2 separate regions of the Homo sapiens genome follow, and region 2 is linked to region 1. Evidence: fine-mapped expression QTL. A gene starts in region 1. The other region holds a variant in brackets. All regions are shown on one strand. Distances are from middle to middle.

Region 1 (9,705 bases):
AATCGGGGTGCCCACCTGTGGTGGGTAGTTAGGTAGCTGTTACAAAGTGCCCCAGCAGAGACCCCCTTGACTAACTTTTATTCTTCCATCTTTTCCCACAGGTGGCAGCTGCCAACAAGAAGCATTAGAACAAACCATGCTGGGTTAATAAATTGCCTCATTCGTAATCCTGGTCTGGGTCTCTTTTTTGAGTCTCTTGCTCTGTCGCCCAGGCTGGAGTGCAGTGGCGCCATCTCAGCTCACTGCAATCTCCGCCTTCTGGGTTCAAATGATTCTCCTGCCTCAGCCTCCCAAAGTGCTGGGATTACAAGTGTGAGCCACTGTGCCTGGTCTGGTTTGGGTCTCTTGATTGTTCTTCAGGGGCATGAGGAAGAGGCGCTTCCTCCCTTCCCTTGGGTGAGGGGGCCCAGGGTGATTGGGTGGCTGTTTACCCGGCAGCCAGTCGGGCCTTCCCAGGTCAAACAGTTCCCATCTGGGTTTGGAGGAAGGACCCAGGGGCCCTTGTGGCTCACTCCCCCACATCCTGTCTTTGCAATTGTCAGAAAGTGAGAAACGAAAGGATGGCTGTGAGCTGTGACCTCAGCTGGGCCTGGGCTGCAGAGGTGGCTTCCGCTGGAGTAAAGCAAGAGGGCCCAGGGTTCATGCTCTTCCCTGGAAGGTAGAAAAGGACAGACCACCAGGGAGCCTCCACCGCAAACTGACCTGTGCTGCCTACACACTAACTTTCCTGGGCCTGGGGCCTGCACAGGCTGAATGGTCCTTGAGCCTTCACTCTGCATCTGAGCGGTCTTGGGCCCGCTGAGTGGCAGTGGCAGGAAGTCGGTGGAAGCAGATCCCTGTGCAGAAGTTGAATTACCAGGGCGGCCACACACGGGCTGCACAACCTTTGCAGTCGTGCACGGCAAGTGGGATGTGGCCTCCGCCCATGATTGGGCACCTGGTCAGGCTGGGAGATCCAAATAGCACCCAGTGGGCAGCTGTCCGACCCCTGGAGGGGCAAGCCAGGAAAGAAACTTAGGGCCCGCTGTGACCAGATGTCCCTCCCAGTTGGGAAGACTAAACTGGTTTGGCCAATATCTCCCAGGATTCCCCTGTCCAAATTATTCCTGGGATCTGACCCATTTCCTGGAAAGGGGCGAGCCTGGGTTTTGAAGTTCAAACTAGAGTTTAAATCACAACTCTGCCCCTAATCCCACGTAACCCTGTGCACCTTATCCTCTGAGCCTTCGTCTCCTCGTGTGTAAGCCTGCTAACTCCTGAGAGACTGGACAAGATGCCGTGGAGAGCCTTGGCTCTGAGTAGCTCTGCTGCTGGACAGTTCAGTTGGCAGTCCCCAAACGTAAGGCGTAAGAGTTTAAGAAGTATCGGCCAGGCACAGTGGCTCACACCTGTAATCTCAACACTTTGGGAGGCCGAGACGGGCTGATCACCTGAGGTTGGGAGCTTGAGAACAGCCTGACCAACATGGAGAAACCCTGTCTCTAAAAATACCAAAATTAGTTGGGCATGGTGGCGCGCACCTGTAATCCCAGCTACTCAGGAGGCTGAGGCAGAAGAATCGCTCGAACCCCGGAGGCGGAGGTTGCAGTGGGTTGAGATCGAGCAATTGCAATCCAGCCTGGGCAACAGAGCGAGACTCCATTTCAAAAAAAGAATCAATAAAAATGTTAAAAGCACCGTTGTTTACACTCAGCAACTCTGTGAAGTAAGTGCCGAAAAGTGCTTTGGAGGTAGGTAAAGTAAGCCATAGGCTGGGTAACTTGCCAGATATCCCACAGCTGGAGCCATCATATGAACCCAAGCAACCCAGCTGCAGCCTGGACCTAGCCACTCCAAGGGCTCTGTGCCTCAGAAAAGAGGCCCAAAGGGTTGCACTCTAGCTGCAGGCCAGTCACTCCCCATTCTGGGCTCTAGTTTCCTCTTTTGGCCATTAATGAAAACATTTCCCAGAGCTGACATGAGAACTCAATGCCAAGCGTCCGGTTTGCACAGCAGCAGGCATTGCGCTTCCCAGGTAGGAAGCAAGGTCTAGGTGTCCCGAGCAGGCCTGCAATCCCGCAGCCGCGCCGCTCCAGCCACTGGGGAGCAGTAGAGGGCCTAGAAAGAAGCTCAGCCACCGAAGGCTCTTGAAGGTGAATTCCTAGGGCTTCCAGGTCTGGAGCCAGGCTTATTCCTGGGAGGGGGTTGTAACGGGGAATTGAAGTGCAGAGGGGCTAGTGACCCCAGCAGAACACCTGGGGTCCTGGTTCCCAGGGCTACAGAACTGTCCTAGATACTGTGCCAAATGCACTGCAGAATATTCTTGCAGTCTTATCAAGTGGGGGGTTTGTACCCATGTTATAGGAGAAAAAACTGAGTTTCAGATGACCAGTCAGTTGGCAGAGCTGAGTTGTAAAAGAATCCTGGACTCTTGAGGCCCAGGCTCTTCTGCGTGGATGGGAATTGCCCTTTTCCCATCTCCTGGGTTCACGCCATTCTGCCTCAGCCTCCCCAGCAGCTGGGACTACAGGCACACGCCGCCATGCCCGGCTAATTTTTGTATTTTTAGTAGAGACGGGGTTTCACTGTGTTAGCCAGGATGGTTTTGATCTCCTGACCTTCTGATCCGCCCGCCTCAGCCTCCCAAAGTGTTGGGATTACAGGCGTGAGCCACCGCGCCCAGCTGGCAATTGCACTTTTTTAAAATTCTGCACTCTAGGAGGCAGAGGTGGGCAGATCACTTGAGGTCAAGAGTTTGAGACCTTGGCCTGGAGTGGTGGCTCACACCTGTAATCCCAACACTTGGAGAGGCCGAGGCAGGTGGATCACCTGAGGTCAGAAGTTCGAGACCAGCCTGGCCAACATGATGGAACCCTGTCTCTACTAAAAAATACAAAAATTAGCTGGACGTGGAGGCAGGAGAATCGCTTGAATGCAGGAAGTGGAGGTCACAGTGAGCCAAGATTGCACCATTGTACTCCAGTCTGGGCGACAAGAGTGAAACACCGTCTCAAAAAAAAAAAAAAAAAAGAGTTTGAGACCAGCCTGGCCAACATGGTGAAACCCTGTGTCTATGAAAAAAAAAATTGGCTGGGCATGGTGGTGCACACCTGTAATTCCAGCTACTTGGGAGGCTGAGACAGGAGAACAGCTTGAACCCAGGAGGCGGAGGCTGCAGTGAGCCAAGATTGTGCCGCCACTGCACTTCAGCCTGGGCAACAGAGCAAGACTCCATCTCAAAAAAAAAAATCTGAAATACTTCAGGCATGCAAGTATTTAGCATTCAGTATTCATAATGTAAGAAAAACCTATGAAGCACAACCCAGTTTAAGTAACACAGGCAGGGCAGGGTGCAGTGCCTATAATCCCAGCACTTCGGGAGGCCAAGCTGGGAGAATCACTTGAGGTCAGGACTTCCAGGCCAGCCTGGGCAACACAGTGAGACCCTGTCTTTACAAAAAATTTAAAAAATAGGCCCAGTGCGGTGGATCATGCCTGTAATCCCAGCACTTTGGGAGGCCGAGGCGAGTGGATCATCAGGTCAGGAGATTGAGACCATCCTGGCTAACACGGTGAAACCCCATCTCTACTAAAAAAATACAAAAAATTAGCCGGTCATGGTGGCATCTGCTTGTAGTCCCAGCTACTCAGGAGGCTGAGGCAGGAGAATCACTTGAACCCGGGAGGCGGAGGTTGCAGTGAGCCAAGATCACACCATCGCACTCCAGCCTGGGCTACACAGCGAGACTCTGTCTCAAAAGAAAAAAAAAATTAAAAATAGCCAGGCATGGTGTGTGCACCTGTAATCCCAGCTACTTGGGAAGCTGAGGCAAGAGAATCACTTGAGCCCAGGAGTTTGACGTTATGATTATGCCACTGGACACCAGCCTTGGTGACAGAGAGAGGCCCTATCTCTAAAAAAGAAAAAAAAAAAAGTGGCCAGCCACGGTGGCTCCCGCCTGTAATCCCAGCACTTTGGGAGGCTGAGGTGGGTGGATTACCTGAGGTCAGGAGTGTGAGACCAGCCTGCCCAACATGGTGAAACCTGGTCTCTACTAAAAATACAAAAATATAGCCAGGCATGGTGGTGGCCGCCTGTAATCCCAGCTACTGAGGAGGCTGAGGCAGGAGAATCACTTGAACCTGGGAGGCAGAGGTTGCAGTGAGCCAAGATCACGCCACTGCACTTCAGCCTGGGTGACAAAGCGAGACTCCGTCTCAAAAAAAAAAAAAAAAAAAGTAACACAGGAAATAAAACCAAGACAAGATGAGCTCTCTGTGTCTCTGTGTGTCCCTCCCCAGACCCAACCCTGGCGTCCCCCAGAGGTAACCCCTCCCAGGAACTGGGCGTTTGCCACTCCCCTGCACGGGTCTACACCTCTGCTACAAACGTGTGTCCCTAAGCAGCGGACGCCTTTTGAAAACAAGTCAACTGTATCATGCTACGATATTTTTTCTGATGTTTGTGCTGTTTCTGAGACAGCCTTATGACACCTTCCCCTATTCTGTAGCATTCTGTTGGCTCACTTTGCCACAGTGTATGCACCCATTCTCCCACAAATGGACTTTTCATTTGCTTCTCAATGTTTGCTACCAAAAATCTCCCTGCAATAAATTTATTTTATATATCCCCTTGTATGTGTGTGAGGGTCCCCTAACTGCTCACAAATATCTCAGCAACTCCGCCCTCCCCACTCAGACCTCATTTCCCTCCTACCAGACATGCTCAAAGGAAACTGGGAGCAACACAAAGATGACTTTGAATCTCTGTCCACCACCCCTAGACTGTATGACACCCGCAAGTGACAACCTCCCCTCTCTGGCCTCGGTTTCCCCCTCTGTAAAATGGGGGATGGCCTACCTTGCCAGTCATGGCAGGTCAATATAAAACAACTTCTGGCTGTGCACAGTGGCACATGCCTGTAATCCCAGCACTTTGGGAAGCTGAGGCAGGAGGATTGCTTGAGGCCAGGAGTTCAAGACCAGCCTGGGCAATATAGCAAGATCCCATCCCTCTTAAAAAAAAAAAAGAAGAAAAATATATGTTGTTGTTGTTATTATTGTTATTATTAGAGACAGAGTTTCGCTTTTGTCACCCAGGCTGGAGTGCAATGGTGTGATCTCAGCTCACTGCAACCTCCACCTCCTGGGTTCAACTGATTCTCCTGCCTCAGCCTCCTGAGTAGCTGGAATAATAGGCATGTGCCACAACATCTGGCTAATTTTGTATTTTTAGTAGAGATGGGGTTTCGCCATGTTGGCCAGGCTGGTCTCAAACTCGACCTCAGGTGATTCTCCTGTCTCAGCCTCCCAAAGGGCTGGGATTACAGGCATAAGCCACCATAGCTGGCCTGTTTTTTTAAAAAAAGAATTCCAGTAAAGAGCTGATCATGGTTCTCACTCCTTGAATACCAGGAACACCATCTCGTATCACATAATGAGACAGGGAGACATTCTGGTCCTCATCTCACAGATGAAAAATGTCAAGCTTCGAAGGATCAAAGTGCCCACCTAGTCACACGGGTAGTCAGCCACAGGTCAGCCTGCCTTATTTATTCTTCATGAGTATTTATAGTGACTAACATTTACTGGGCGCCTACTGTGGGCCATTTCTGTGCATGTGACAACCCCTTTAAGTCCTTGTTTCTAATCCCAAGAAGCAAGGAAATGGGGTCAGGGAAGGGACAAGGTTTGCCCAAGTCCAGGCAGGGGGAGAGGTCAAGCTCAGAACCATCACCTGCCCATGACACATGCCCAGGACTCAGGTTCCCTAGGCTTCCTTCCAAAGGCTCAGCAGTGACGAGCCAGCCCTTGAACCAGCCTCTTCCCCCACCCAAGCAGCCACCTCTCAGGGGAATTGTGGCCACCACAGGTGCAGGGAGCAGTTTCTCTCCACTCACAGCCTGAAGCATACCCGGCAGGGGCTGTCCCCAGGCCCAACAAGCAAAGGGCCCAGTAGCGAGGGCCACTGGAGCCCATCTCCGGGGGGCTGGGCAGGAAGTAGGGTGGGGTTTGGGGTAGGGATCTGGTACCCTGGGACTGCTGCAACTCAAACTAACCAACCCACTGGGAGAAGATGCCTGGGGGTCCAGGAGTCCTCCAAGCTCTGCCTGCCACCATCTTCCTCCTCTTCCTGCTGTCTGCTGTCTACCTGGGTATGTGGCCAAAGGGCAGGAACTGGCGGGAGGTGGGGGAAGCTGTGGAGGCTGCAGAGAGGGCACAGGCAGAGGGAAGGGGGCTCAGGGAAAGGGGAAGAGGAGGCAGAGGATAGGGGACCCAGGGAAGATGCCTATAGAAATCGTATCTGTGCCAAGATGGGCCAAGGTGGGGCTGGAGGGAGCCCAGCGAAGGAGAAGGGGCGTCCACAGTCTCACACAGGGAGGCAGGAGCAAGAGTCACCTCCCCCACCTCCTGTTCCCCACAGGCCAAAATAAGGAACTAAAGTTGCTCTTGACTGAGCACCAGGGCTGGGGGCAGGAAGGGGACTTAGGGGTAGCAGCATTCAGCGTCTGTCAAGGGGAGAAAAAGCTTTCTCTGCCTTAAACCTCAGGTGCCTCTCTCTGTTGGGAGTCCCTTCTCAGCACTGGGGGAATGGGTGTCTCATGGACTCCCCCTCACCTGCTCAAGGACAGCTGGCAGGGGCTGTGGCCACGCTAACCCAGGAGTTCAGAGAAAAAGGTTCCCCACCCAAGGGGACACTGGGAGCAAGGATTGGAGTTCACGTCTGAGTCTTAAGCCCGTGACGATGAGGGTGCTCGGCCCCTCTCCCCATCTCTTCCTCCTTCTCTCTTCCTCACCTCCCTCCTCCACCTACCTCCAGAAGAGGGGACTGGCCATGTGGGAGGCCTGGCTGAGAGCTGGGGCTTCCCAGAGGAGCCCGGATTGGACACTGCAGCCAGCCTGAGCCGCCTCGTCTCACTCAGAGACACCCCCAGTCTCCACCCCGCTCTGAGCCCCTTCAATCACCAGCAGCCCAGCCCAAGGACTGAACTCACCCCTGACCCCTAGGTTGACACATACAACTTACAGAGAATGAGGGCCAGGCACAGGGTCACAGGCCAGGGCAGGCCACAGACTGGCTCCTCAGCCCAGGCAGGGAGAGGCCAGGGAGCCAAGAGTTTGAACCCAGTGCCACTCCTGACTGCCTGGTGATGCTGGCAACCCGCCTGCCCTCCCAGAGCCTCAGCCATCCCTCCTGTAAAATGGGGCTAAGGAGAGAACCTACTTCTAGGGTTCTGTGAATGATTACACAAGAAAAAGCGCCAGGTGCTGGGCCTGGCTGAGGCTGGGGTGCAAAAATGGACCGGGAAGGCTGCGGGAGGAGGGGACGCCTGCACTGCTTCTGGAAGGAGCTGTCTGGACAGCGGTCCTCCAGTGCCTGGAACAAACATCCAAAATCCAGAGAGTTCACAGGGCCAGAGTACAAAGTGGGTATGCGGGAGGGGGGCAAGAGATGGCGCTGCAGAGGTGAGAAGGGCCTCCCAGGGGTCTTACCATCCCAGGGAGTCTCATTCTCCTCTCCCAGGATATCCTCACCCACCCCAACCAGGTATGTCCTCTCTCCTTCCCAGGGGCTTCTTCACTTTCCCGCATCCCCCCTCTCCCCAGGATGTATCAGCCCCTGTCAGGGGCTCTCTCTCTCCCTCCCCACCCAGGAGAGTCCTCACCCTCTTCCCAGGAGTGCTGGAACTGCAGGGGCCAGGGCTGGGGAAATGTGTCACCATCCCCAGTCCCTGACCCACCCACCCTGTCTCTCCACAGGCCCTGGGTGCCAGGCCCTGTGGATGCACAAGGTCCCAGCATCATTGATGGTGAGCCTGGGGGAAGACGCCCACTTCCAATGCCCGCACAATAGCAGCAACAACGCCAACGTCACCTGGTGGCGCGTCCTCCATGGCAACTACACGTGGCCCCCTGAGTTCTTGGGCCCGGGCGAGGACCCCAATGGTACGCTGATCATCCAGAATGTGAACAAGAGCCATGGGGGCATATACGTGTGCCGGGTCCAGGAGGGCAACGAGTCATACCAGCAGTCCTGCGGCACCTACCTCCGCGTGCGCCGTGAGTGGCCCAGCCCTGGCCCCTACTCCCACTGTCCCGCTGGGGACACTCGGTTTATCTTTGAAGTGGGGATAGAGCCAGTACCTTCAATGTGGGTTTCAAACCGGCTTGGACAGAGGGACGGACATTCTCCTCTGCAGAGTGGGGTCTCTGGGGGGTCTGGGGCCTTGCAGGAGGTGGGCGGGGCCAGGAGGCTAGGGAGGGCAAGAGGGGCCAGGGCTCTGAGCCATACTACCTCCTTGCAGAGCCGCCCCCCAGGCCCTTCCTGGACATGGGGGAGGGCACCAAGAACCGAATCATCACAGCCGAGGGGATCATCCTCCTGTTCTGCGCGGTGGTGCCTGGGACGCTGCTGCTGTTCAGGGTGAGCCCCCTCGGACCTCTGAGTCAGCCGGGCGAGGGCCTGGGCCGAGGGACCCCCAATACCCAGGTAGCCCTCTAGAGCCTGAGGTTCCCCATCCAAAACTTGGGAGAATGAAAGCACCCACCATATAGGGGCTGTGGGAGTTAAATGAATGAATATAAAGAAGGGACTTGAACTGGCGCTGAGCCCAGGGGGTGTCTTCAATTTAGTTTCCCCTTCTGGGCTGTCCTCACGTCCACCTCCCCCCAAGAAGAGTCTCATTCTTCTCCCTAAGAGTGTCCTCACTCCCCTCCTGCCCTCACCCAGGAGTGTGGTTACCCTCCAGGTGTAGCCAAGACCAGGGAAGGTGGGGCCTGGTCCTCCCAGAATCTCTGATCTGTACCAGCCTCTCCTTAGGCACTACAGAAAGTGTGACTGTTATTGTTATTATTCATGGAGAATAGTAAGGGAGTGGAGACTCAAGAAGACGCTAGCTTGGGAGGCCGAGGCAAGAGGATCACTTGAGGCCACAAGTTTGAGACCAGCCTGGGCAACACAGCAAGACCCTATCTCTACACACACAAAGTCTTAAAAAAAAATTAGCCAGGCATGGTGGCACACACCTATAGTCCCAGCTACTCAGGAGGCTGAGGTGGGAGGATTGCTTGAGCCCAGGAGTTCAAGGCTGCAGTGAAATATGATGTTGCCACAGCACTTCAGCCTGGGCAACTGAGGGAGAAGAAAGAGAGAGAGAGAGAAAGAGAGAGAGAGAGAGAGAGAGAGAGAGAGGGCGAGAGGGAGGGAGGGAAGGAAGGGAAGGGAAGGAAGGAAGGAAGGAAGGAAGGAAGGAAGGAAGGAAGGAAGGAAGGAAGGAGAACACTGGTTGTAGACTCAGAGAGAACTGTTACATAACCAGTATGTGGCCTTGGGGACATCTCTTACCCTTTCTGGAAAAGTACTTCCTGGCATCCAGGAGGGTCTGAAAGATATTCACCTCCCCCTGCTCACTGAGGCACCCACCCCACCCACCCCTACAGAAACGATGGCAGAACGAGAAGCTCGGGTTGGATGCCGGGGATGAATATGAAGATGAAAACCTTTATGAAGTGAGTGAAGGGTGGGGATGGGGTAGGGGCAGTTGTGTTAGGGGTGGGGGTGTTCCCTCTGGGGGTGGCTGGGGGCAGGGACCCCAGGTGTCAGGGTGCTGATGTTCGCTGCCTCATTTCCATCCCAGGGCCTGAACCTGGACGACTGCTCCATGTATGAGGACATCTCCCGGGGCCTCCAGGGCACCTACCAGGATGTGGGCAGCCTCAACATAG
Region 2 (10,423 bases), 380 kb after region 1:
AACAGGTACCAACAAGGCCTCCAGGCAACACATCCACCCTCAAAGACTCCACCCAAGTCTGGAATCCAACAAGGGATCCTTCCCCTTGGGAATCCAGGGAATCAGTAGTTCCTGCTCCCACAGGGACCACCCCCTCCAAATCCAGAGCTCACTGTAGGCCCCCAACTCCTGCCCAGACTGGGCTGCAGTACCACATAGCCCCCGGAGTCCCTGCCCCATTCAGATATATCCCAGCCTTCCACCAGCCCCTCAGGGTGCCAGGGATATGACCTCCAGCTGTTCACAGACCAGCACCAACAGCCCCTGTTCCATTTAAAAGTGACAGCCTTTGACAACCCCTTCCAGAGACCCCAGAGCACCATCGCTCTCTTGGGAATCTAGGTGTTCAACCCATTATCCTCACCCTTCTAGAGAATCCAGATCACAAGGTCTCCTGCAAGGCCCAGGGTCCTTTGGAACCCAGGTGACCCAGCCACCAGCTTCATGGACCCTCATATCCCCTCCAAAAAGCTCCCAGCCCCTCTCAGGGAACCAAGCTCCATGTTACTTCCACCTCAGCCCCAATCTGGCTCTAGACCTAGAAGGGGGGCCAAAGCCCCTGAGACATCAATCTGGGGGTGGGGGATGTACTGACTTCCACCCTCCCCCCAAAATTAAAGCCACCCTTCCCAGCCCACCCGCCCCAGCCTCCGTGTCCCGGTAACCAGGCAACGTGTGTGCAGCGACAGTCCTGGGAGCGGGGGAGCAGGAGGCTAAAAATAAACTTTGCAGAAGAGAGGGAGTGAGAGAGACTACATGCAACACAAAGGGAACTCGGAAAGGAGGTGGGGGGGCTCTGGAAAGGCCTCAAGCCGCATTCTGGGAGCTGTCCCAGGCCCCCTTGTTAAACCCCTTCCCTGAGCAACCCCTCCTCCAGGGCCTGGACCCTGGCTCCCACTTCTGGCAGGGACCCTTCCCCACTCCCAAGCCCACCACAACGGCGGCTTTCCTCATCGGACACAGCATACATGAAGGCCTGTTCCCGGCTTTGGGGGGGGGAGAATGAAGAGGGGGTGACGTCAGGGTGTCTCAATGGGGCTCTGTTCCCCAGGCCTTGGAGCCAGGAGCCAGGCACGGGCAAGGGGAGCATGTGTGAGTGTGCTGTGTATGCGTCCACGTGCTTAAAACAGGGAAACACCAGACCTGCACGGAGGAAGCTTGGGGGTGCGGGACCTCGGGAACATGGGGGCCAGTGAGGCAGGGAGAGAGCAGGCACATGGAGAGAGGGGTTCAGGAGACTGCGAGACAGAGTGCAGAAGTGGCAGCAGTCAGACAGCAAGGGCTGGGATGGCGAGGTCCCAGAAGCACACCTGGGTCCCACAGAGGCGGGGTAGGGATTCTCCCAGACAGACTATGCAAGCCTGGGGGGACAAAACTCCTGGGCACCCCCCAACCTCACGTGACGGCCCAAACTTTTTTTAAGGGACTATGAGGGTCGGAAGGGAGGAGTGGTGGCAGAGGAAGAACACGCCGGCCTCCTGGGGGGCCCCACCACCTCCCCCACTCCAGGCGGCCCTCTATGGCGCCAGAGCCGGGAAGAAAACAGGAAGTGGGAAACAGCCACGGCAGAGAGAGGGACCGGGATGGAGAACTGGATGGAGGGGTGCGGAGCGGCAGGCCAGGAGGCAGACGGGAAAGATGCACCGATCGGAGGCCATTCCAGGCCTCCTTCCCCTCCCCTCCCCCAGCCGGAAAACCCACACACTGTCCCGCCCCCCGACAGGGTTGGGGAAGCGACCCGCGGATCCTATCAGGCCAAGGCCGGTAGCAGGGAGAGAAGATGAAGCGAGGTTGTCTGGGTGCCTCGGCCTCCTCCTTGGGCGAGGGTAGGCTCCTGCTGCCCCCAGGGCCCAGCCACCCGGGAGCGAGTGGAAGCCGGGGGAGTGTGTAGGACGCACGTGACTGACCCTACCGCACTCCGCACCCCGGCCCCACCCCCAGGGCCCCTCCTCGGTCCGGGTCCCAATCCCCTGGCGCCGGATCCCAGCTCGGAGCCCTTTAAGATTAAGCCGCCCCCACCCGCCGAGCAGGGGGATGGGGATGGGAATGGGGTGGGAATGGGGTGGGGATGGGGTGGGGTGGGTGGGCCGGTCGGGGCACACACCCGCACACAGGAGCCCGAGCCGCCGCCGCCGCCGCCGCCGCCGCCGGGGGAAGGAAACAAGTTTGAACAGCGGCGCCCGGCCCCCTTCCCCCTCCCCCGTCCCCGCCCCGGGCCGGATTCCGACGGGGTAGACGGGCAGGGGGCGGCTGGGACCCCTCCCCCTGCGCGCTCGGGCGCAAAGTCCAGCCCGCGCGAGCCCGGGGGCGGCGGGGGAGGGGAGGGGGAAAAGTCCGAGTGGGAGGGGGAGTTAATCCCGCTGCCCCCCGCCCGCCGACCGAGGGGGAGGGGAACCTTGGCCCCTTAAGGAGGAGCAAGTTGGCGGGGAAGAGAGGGGCGGAGGGAAGAGACGGCCCGCTGAAAGAGAAGAGGTGGATCCGGGAGGGGGGGCGAGGGGGGAGCCTCTGCGTCTCCCCCCACCTTCCCCACCCTCCTCAACCCCGGGCCACCGGTGGCGCGGGAGGAGGGTACCCAGGTCTCCCCGGAGCCACCTTAAAGCCGCGCGTTCTAAGGTCGGAAACAAAAAGTTCCTTTTTCGAACGTTCGGGCTGCGCTTTGGAACTTTGCGACTCGGCGAGGGCGGGGGAGCGAGGAGCCGACAGAGGCGGGCGGGGGAGGGGCGGCGCAGCCAGGACCCCGAGTCCCGGGCTCCCCACTCACGCCCTCCTCCTAGAGGCCATCCCGTATCCCCCGCTAACCTGGTGCAGGGCACGCGCCGCCGTGAAGGTCACCAGCAGGACCGCGCAGCGCAGAACCAGGGATAGCGGGCCCGGTGGACGAGCCCCCCCGCCCCGCACACGTCCCGGCCCCCAGAGTGCAACGTGACAAGAGCGGAGGGGAAGGACCCCGCCACCCCCGTGATCCCGGGAGTGGGGGAGAGCCCGGCCTGCGGGGTCCCGGTAGGGATACAGGACCAAGACCCGCAGCACCCACACCACTCCGCCCGGAGCCAGGAATCGGGGGTCCCAGGCAGCAACCCCGCTCGCGCCACGAGAAGCAACAGGTCTCCAGTGCTTGAGGGGTCCCCCAGAACTGGGGATCACTCGGGCTCCCCCGGACCCCTTCAGCCCCCCCAAAGTTTCTCCGTTCGGTTTCCCGGGGCAACAAGTCTCCCCCACACGTGCTGCCCCCGCCCCCACCTGTGTCCGCCGGGGTCTTCATGCTGGGGGGCCCGGGGCGAAGCGCCCCGATTCCGGGCCGCGGCTCCCGGCGCCCTCGCTGCCCCGTCCCGTCCCGCGCCCGTCGGGCCGCCCTCGCCGCCTCACCCGGCCTCGCCTCTCAGAGCCTCTCCCCTCCCCGCCGCCGCCTCCCGGGTTAATATCGCACTCCGGGGCCGGGACGCCCACGCCCCCCGGCCGGCGACGTCACCGCCGCGTCGCCATGGAGACACTGCGCCCGCCCCCTCCCCGCGCACTCACACACACGCTCGTCGGCGCGCAGCCACTGAGGACCGGCCGGCTCTGGGCTTAAAGGGGCCGCGCGGCGGGGGAGGGAGGAAGGAGGGGGTGGGGGTGGGATGGGGTCCCGCGGGTCATGACCCTAGTCAGAGGCTCCGAGTCTGCAGCTAACTTAAGTCTTCGGCACTCGCTACCTGCTGCCCCTCCTCCTCTCCTGCCCACTGCGGGCTCCAGAGTTTCTTTTGGGAGCCTGTATGGGAAAACGGGGGGCCCTTCCGAGGAAGCGGGGGTCAGAAACTTTTGTGGGGAGGGGGCAGAATCTTCTCTGCAGAGGGGCGGGGTCAGGACCTTAGAAGATGATGAAGACCACAGCATTTCCCAGCTTGGTTTTACCCAACCCCCCAACCCTGAGCCTGAATGGGGGCAGCTGTCCAGGGGTGGGGTGGAATGGGTGGGATGCATTTCCCAGCATCGGAAATGGGGAGGCGGCTGTGCCCTCCGCTCCTGTGGGGATGGGGTCTTGGCTTCCCTGATAACCCCCGTCCAGCTGGGGAGGAAGTGACCAGAGAGAATGCATTTGGAAGCCCCCACCACCACCGTCCCCAGGCTGCAGCTGTCCCGGGGATAGGGCTGGCGCCGGAGGTCCCCCCACGTCCACTACTAGGACCGGGGGTTCCGGAGGCGGGGCCGGGATACGAGGGGGCGACCAAAGTCTGAACAAATGTGCTCCCAAGGGGCACTGAGGGTCGCCAGGAGAGAGGAAGACAGGGCTTAAGATCGAAAGCCAGAGCGTAGAGAAGTGTTAAGTCTCCGTTCTCTGCCTCAGCCGGGAGGGAAGGATGAAGCCTGAGGCTCTGGGAAACAGGAAATCACAGCGCAGATCTGATGGAGCCCAGGAGCCGGCAGCAGGGTAGAGGCCAAATAGAAGCAATATTCACAGGCATAGCCTGGAAACAGAGTCTCAAAAAAGACTCTGAGGTTCCGAAGGAGGGGCGTATGGGTGGCGGGCGGGAGTTGGGGGGGCTGGGTGGGGGACGAATCCAGAAGATGGGCGGGGAGACAGAAAAGTCACAGATAGGGAAGGCCTGCGGAGCTCAGGCTCCCGGTACCCAGGGCTTCAATCCCAGCCTCCTCGCTTGCGGGGTACCTAGTCCACCTTAGACAGGCTCCTCACCAGTGCCTAAAAAAAAAAGTCTCAGGCCTCCTCCTTGGGGAGACCAAGGGCTCCAGGGAAGCTTTCCCCCACAACCCCCGGGAATTATGTAACCTTGCCTACGGACAGTACAGCTCCCCCACGGATATTGTAACCCTCTGGGAGCGGTGTGGTCCAGCAATAATAATCATCTTCATTGTTCGAATAACAGCTCCCGAATTCCGAGTGTTCATGATGTGCCAGGCACCGGGCCAAGCATTGTCAGGGGCATCTTCTCATTTAATCCTCACAAAATCCCAACGAGGGGAATTACTGCTGTTATCCCCATTTACAGATAAAGAAAGTGATGCTCTCTGAGGGAAAATCAGTCCACTAAATCTTACAGCCAGGAAGTATTGGAACTAAGATTCGAACCCAGATCTAACCAATTCCAAACCACCACATTTACCCTTTACCATTATGCTTTATTACCTCTTTTACTACCCCCTC[C/CA]AAAAAAAAAAAAATGCAGATTTTCAAAGATACTACATCAGGGCCCGGCGCAGTGGCGCACGCCTGTAAACCTAGCACTTTGGGAGCCGAGGCGGGAGATCACTTCAGGTCAGAAGTTCCAGACCAGCCTGGCCAACATGGTGAAACCCCATCTCTACTAAAAGTACAGAAATTTGCCAGGCGTGGTGGCGCACCTGTAATCCCGGCTACTCAGGAGGCTGAGGCAGGAGAATCGCTTGAACCCAGGAGGATCGCTTGAATCCAGGAGGCGGAGGCTGTAGTGAGCCGAGATCGCTCCGCTGCACTCCACCCTGGGTAACAGCAAAACTCCGTCTAAAAATAAATAAATAAAAAGGCTGGGCGCGGTAGCTCACGCCTGTAATCCCAGCACTTTGGGAGGCCGAGGCAGGTGGATCACCTGAGGTCTGTAGTTCGAGACCAGCCTGACCAACATGGAGAAACCCCGTCCCTACTAAAAATACAAAAAATTAGCCGGGCTTGGTGGTGCATGTCTGTAATCCCAGCTGCTCGGGAGGCTAAGGTAGAATCGCTTGAACCCGGGAGGGGGTTGGTTGCGGTGAGCTGAGATCGCGCCATTGCACTCCAGCCTGGGCAACAAGAGCGAAACTCAGTTTCAAAACAAACAAACAAACAAAAAGATAACACATCAGTAACAAACCCAGTGACCCCTACCCTCCCACCAGCAAGACAGAGATGAGTTACACCCAACCTTTTTTTTTTTTTTTTGAGACGGAGTCTCACTCTGTCGTCCAGGGTGGAGTGCAGTGGCCCCATCTCGGCTCACTGCAAGCTCCGCCTCCCGGGTTCACGCCATTCTCCTGCCTCAGCCTACTGAGTAGCTGGGACTACAGGCGCCCCCCACCACGCCCGGCTAATCTTTTGTATTTTTAGTAGAGACAGGGTTTCACCGTGTTAGCCAGGATGGTCTCAATCTTCTGACCTCGTGATCCGCCAGCCTCAGCCTCCCAAAGTGCTGGGATTACATGTGTGAGCCACCACACCTGGCTGTTACACCCAACCTTTGCTACTTCTTGTCTCTGACAAGGCAAGTGAACTCAGTTCACCTCTTTTTTTTTTTTTTTTTTTTTTTGAGATGGGGGTCTCACTGTGTTGCCCAGGCTGGATTGCAGTGGCACAATAATGGCTCACTACAGCCTCGACTTCCCTGCCTCAAGCAATTCTCCCACTTCAGCCTCCTGAGTAGCTGGGACTACAGACACATGCCACCATGCCCAGTTACTTTTTTTTTTTTTTGAGATGGAATTTTGCTCTTGTCACCCAGGCTGTAAGTGCAATGGCACGATCTTGGCCCACTGCAACCTCTGCCTCCCTGGTTCAAGCAATTTTCCTGTCTCAGCCTCCTGAGTAGCTGGAATTACAAGCGCCCACCACCATGCCCAGCTTTTTTTTTTTTTTTTTTTTTTTGAGACGCAGTTTTGCTCTCCTTGCCCAGGCTGGAGTGCAGTGACACCATCTTGGCACATCGCAACCTCCGTCTCCTGGGTTCAAGCAATTCTCCTGCCTCAGCCTCCCGAGTAGCTAGGATTACAGGCATGCGCCACCACGCCCAGCTAATTTGTATTTTTAGTAGAGACGGGGTTTTTCCATGTTGGTCAGGCTGGTTTTGAACTCCTGACCTCAGATGATCCACCCGCCTCAGCATCCCAAAGTGCTGGGATTACAGGCGTGAGCCACCATGCCCAGCCAACCCAGCTAATTTTTTTTTATTTTTAGTGGAGTTGGGGTCTCTCTGTGTTGACCAGGATAGTCTCCAACTCCTGGGCTCAAACGATCCGCCCACCTTGGCCTCCCAGAGTGCTGGAATTACAGGTGTGAGTCACCCTGCCTAGCGAAGTTCACCTCTTTTTTTTTTTTTTTTTTTTTGAGATGGAGTCTCGCTCTTTCGCCCAGGCCAGACTGCAGTGGCGCTATCTCGGCTCACTGTAAGCTCCGCCTCCCGGGTTCACGCCATTCTCCTGCCTCAGCCTCCCGAGTAGCTGGGACTACAGGCACCCGCCATCACGCCCAGCTAATTTTGTGTATTTTTAGTAGAGACGGGATTTCACCGTGTTAGCCAGAATGGTCTCGATCTCCTGACCTCGTGATCCGCCCTCCTTGGCCTCCCAAAGTGCTGGGATTACAGGCGTGAGCCACTGCGCCTGGCCAAGTTCACCTCTTTGAGCCTCAATTTTCCTCATTTGTAAAATGGAGGTGTTAATAGATCCTACATGATCAAGTTATTGTGAAAAATCAGAGATGTGGCCAGGCGAGGTGGCTCACACCTGTAATCCCAGCACTTTGTGAGGCCGAGGCAGGTGGATCACCTGAGGTCAGGAGTTCCAGACCATCCTGGCCAACATGGTGAAAACCCGTCTCTATTAAAAATACAAAAATTAGCTGGGCGTGGTGGCTGGCGCCTGTAATCCTAGCTACTCAGGAGGCTAAGGCAGGAGAATCATTTGAACCCGGGAGGCGGAGGTTGCAGTGAGCCGAGATCATGCCATTGCACTCCAGCCTGAGTGACAGGGCGATACTCCGTCTTAAAAAAAAAAAAAAAAGAAAAAAAGAAAAATCAGAGATGCAAAGTAAGTATGCAATAAATACTGTTAATAATTATTAGCAGAGTGAACTCTATGCCCCATGGATAACAAGAGCACTCTACCCTACAGACTCCAACTGTAACAACAGTTAGAGTAAACAGCAATAAACAGGCTGGCTGCAGTTTGTGTCTGACACATGTAATCCCAGCACTTTGGGAGGCCGAAGCAGGAGAATTTCAAGAGGCCAGGAGTTCAAGACCAGCCTGGGCAACAGAGTGAGACTCTCTCTACAAAAAATTTATTTATTTTTTTTTTTATTTATTTGAGATGGAGTCTCCCTGTGTCACCCAGGATGCAGTGCAGTGGCAGGATCTCAGCTCACTGCAACCTCTTCCTCCCAGGTTCAAGCAATTCTCCTGCCTCAGCCTCCCGAGTAGCCTAGATTACAGGCTTGCGCCACCACGCCCGGCTAATTTTGTGTTTTTAGTAGAGATGGGGTTTCTCCATGTTGGCCAGGCTGGTCTCGAACTCCTGACCTCAGGTGATCCGCCCACCTCGGCCTCCCAAAGAGCTGGGATTACAGGCGTGAGCCACCAAGCCTGGCCGGGAGGATGGTTCTTACTGGCAGATCTGTGTCCGTGGTGTCCAAAGGGCAGCCCAGGCTTATGTTTTCTTTTTCTTCTTTTTTTTTTTTTTAATTTTTATTTTAAGTTCTGGGATACATGTGCAGGACGTACAGGTTTGTTACATAGGTAAACGTGTGTCATGGTGGTTTACTGCACCTATCAACCCATCACCTAGGTGTTAAGGGACATTTTTTCTTAAAAATAAAATTTAAAAAAATAAAGCACACTGCACTGACAGTGTGAAATTGTGTATTAATGTCATAATCCCACTCTGACCCAGATGGTTGGCTCAAACTCAGTGTTTCTATGAAACACAATCACGGATGATCGGCATGCCTCGTGGGAGAATCTGAACGATCCGCGGAGAGTGAAAGTCCCTCGTGAAAATGTCGTCTGGGCCTCTTAAGTTTGGTGGTTTGTGCAAACGTGTCCATGGATATTGTAATCTTTCAGTGGCCTATGTGACTCCAATTGCTTTATCAACACTGATACCCACCCCCAGAGATGGTAGAGATGGTGAAATATTGGCCAGGTGCGGTGGCTCATGCCCGTAATCCCAGCACTTTGGGAGGCTGAGGTGGGCAGGTGGATCACCTGAGGTCAGGAGTTCAAGTCCAGCCTGGCCAACATGGTGAAACCCTGTCTCTACTAAAACTACAAAAATTAGCTGGACATGGTGTCGGGTGCCTGTAACCCCAGCTACTCAGAAGGCTGAGGCAGGAGAATCGATTGAACCCAGGAGACAGATGTTGCAGTGAGCTGAGATTGGGTTCAAGTGATTCTCCTGCCTCAGACTCCCGAGTAGCTAGGATTACAGGCGCACGCCACCATGCCCAGCTAATTTGTTTTTGTATTTTTAGTAGAGGCAGGGTTTCACCATGTTGCCACGCTGGTCTCAAACTCCTGACCTCAGGTAACCACCCTCTTTGGCCTCCTGAAGTGCTGAGATTACAGGCCTGAGCCACCACACCCAGCTTTTTTATTTTTTATTTATTATTTTTTTTTTGAGGTGGAATTTCGCTTCGTCACCCAGGCTGGAGTGCGTTGGCACGATCTCGGCTCACTGTCACCTCCACCTCTTGGGTTCAAGCAATTCTGCCTCAGCCTCCCAAGTAGCTGCGATTACAAGTACCCGCCACCACGCCTGGCTGAAAACCCTGTTTTCTTCCCCCCCGAGACAGAGTCTTTCTCTATTACCCAGGCTGGAGTGCAGTGGCACAATCTTGGCTCACTGCAACCACCGCCTCCCGGGTTCAACCTATTCTTCTGCCTCAGCCTCCCAAGTAGCTGGGATTACAGGTGCCCACCACCATGCCCGGCTAATTTTTGTATTTTTAGTAGAGATGGGGTTTCAACATGTTGGACAGGCTGGTCTTGAACTCCTGACCTCGTGATCTGCCTCAGCCTCCCAAAGTGCTGGGATTACAGGCGTGAGCCACCGAGCCCTGTTTCTTTCTTTCTTTTTTTTTTTTTGAGACGGAGTCTCACCATGTCGCCCAGGCTGGAGTGCAGTGGCGCAATCTCAGCTCACTGCAACTCAGCCTCCCGGGTTCACGCCATTCTCCTGCCTCAGCCTCCCAAGTAGCTGGGACTACAGAGGCCCGCCACCACGCCCAGCTAATTTTTTGTATTTTTTGTAGAGATGGGCTTTCACCATGTTAGCTAGGATGGTCTCGATCTCCTGACCTCGTGATCCGCCTGCCTCAGCCTCCAAAAGTGCTGGGATTACAGGCGTGAGCCACTGCACCCGGCCTAACCCTGTTTCTTAAGAAAAAAAGATAGTGTGATGCGGGGGATTGAGTCCAATCTCTCCCCCTCTGCAAAACCCTGTTGCAGTGTTCTCTATCAAAACAAAACAAAAATTTAAAAAATGAATAGTATGACTCATCTCATATGGTATAGCCACCATACACAGTGTGACCACCTCTAAACAGAATGTCACCCCCTTAGAGTATCACTCTTTCTCATCTCCCTGACTGAAGATGCTGAAGGCACCAGGGCTCAGATCCCTCTTTTCTCCTGTCTAGACTCATTCCCTTGATAACCTCCACCAGTCC

Which allele goes with the higher level. Positions count from the first base shown, and alleles are read on the strand shown. Sizes are in standard deviations (SD) of each study's normalised expression.
As copies of C replace CA in region 2, the expression in lymphoblastoid cells of the gene that starts at base 6,030 in region 1 goes down (large effect, 1.0 SD a copy in GEUVADIS).

The links.
Region 2: its variant is fine-mapped to the expression of CD79A in lymphoblastoid cells (GEUVADIS, PIP 0.95).

Annotation. Positions count from the first base shown.
Region 1 is chr19:41,871,250-41,880,954 of GRCh38, forward strand. CD79A (CD79a molecule) reads left to right here and starts at 6,030. Exons shown (of 5, transcript NM_001783.4): 1 at 6,030-6,134; 2 at 7,741-8,040; 3 at 8,286-8,404; 4 at 9,421-9,489; 5 at 9,618-9,705. The coding sequence starts at 6,056. RPS19 (ribosomal protein S19) reads left to right here. Exons shown (of 6, transcript NM_001022.4): 6 at 102-1,676. The coding sequence ends at 128. RefSeq lists enhancers at 227-296, 537-796, 2,110-2,359, 4,695-4,764 and a silencer at 6,172-6,231.
Region 2 is chr19:42,251,699-42,262,121 of GRCh38, forward strand. ERF (ETS2 repressor factor) reads right to left here and starts at 3,430. Exons shown (of 4, transcript NM_006494.4): 1 at 3,280-3,430. The coding sequence starts at 3,301. RefSeq lists silencers at 1,892-2,051, 2,102-2,151, 2,172-2,291, 2,382-2,451, 2,532-3,221 and 2 more and enhancers at 2,987-3,486, 4,127-4,658, 5,454-6,275, 6,276-7,096. The variant C/CA (reference allele first, on the strand shown) is at 5,180.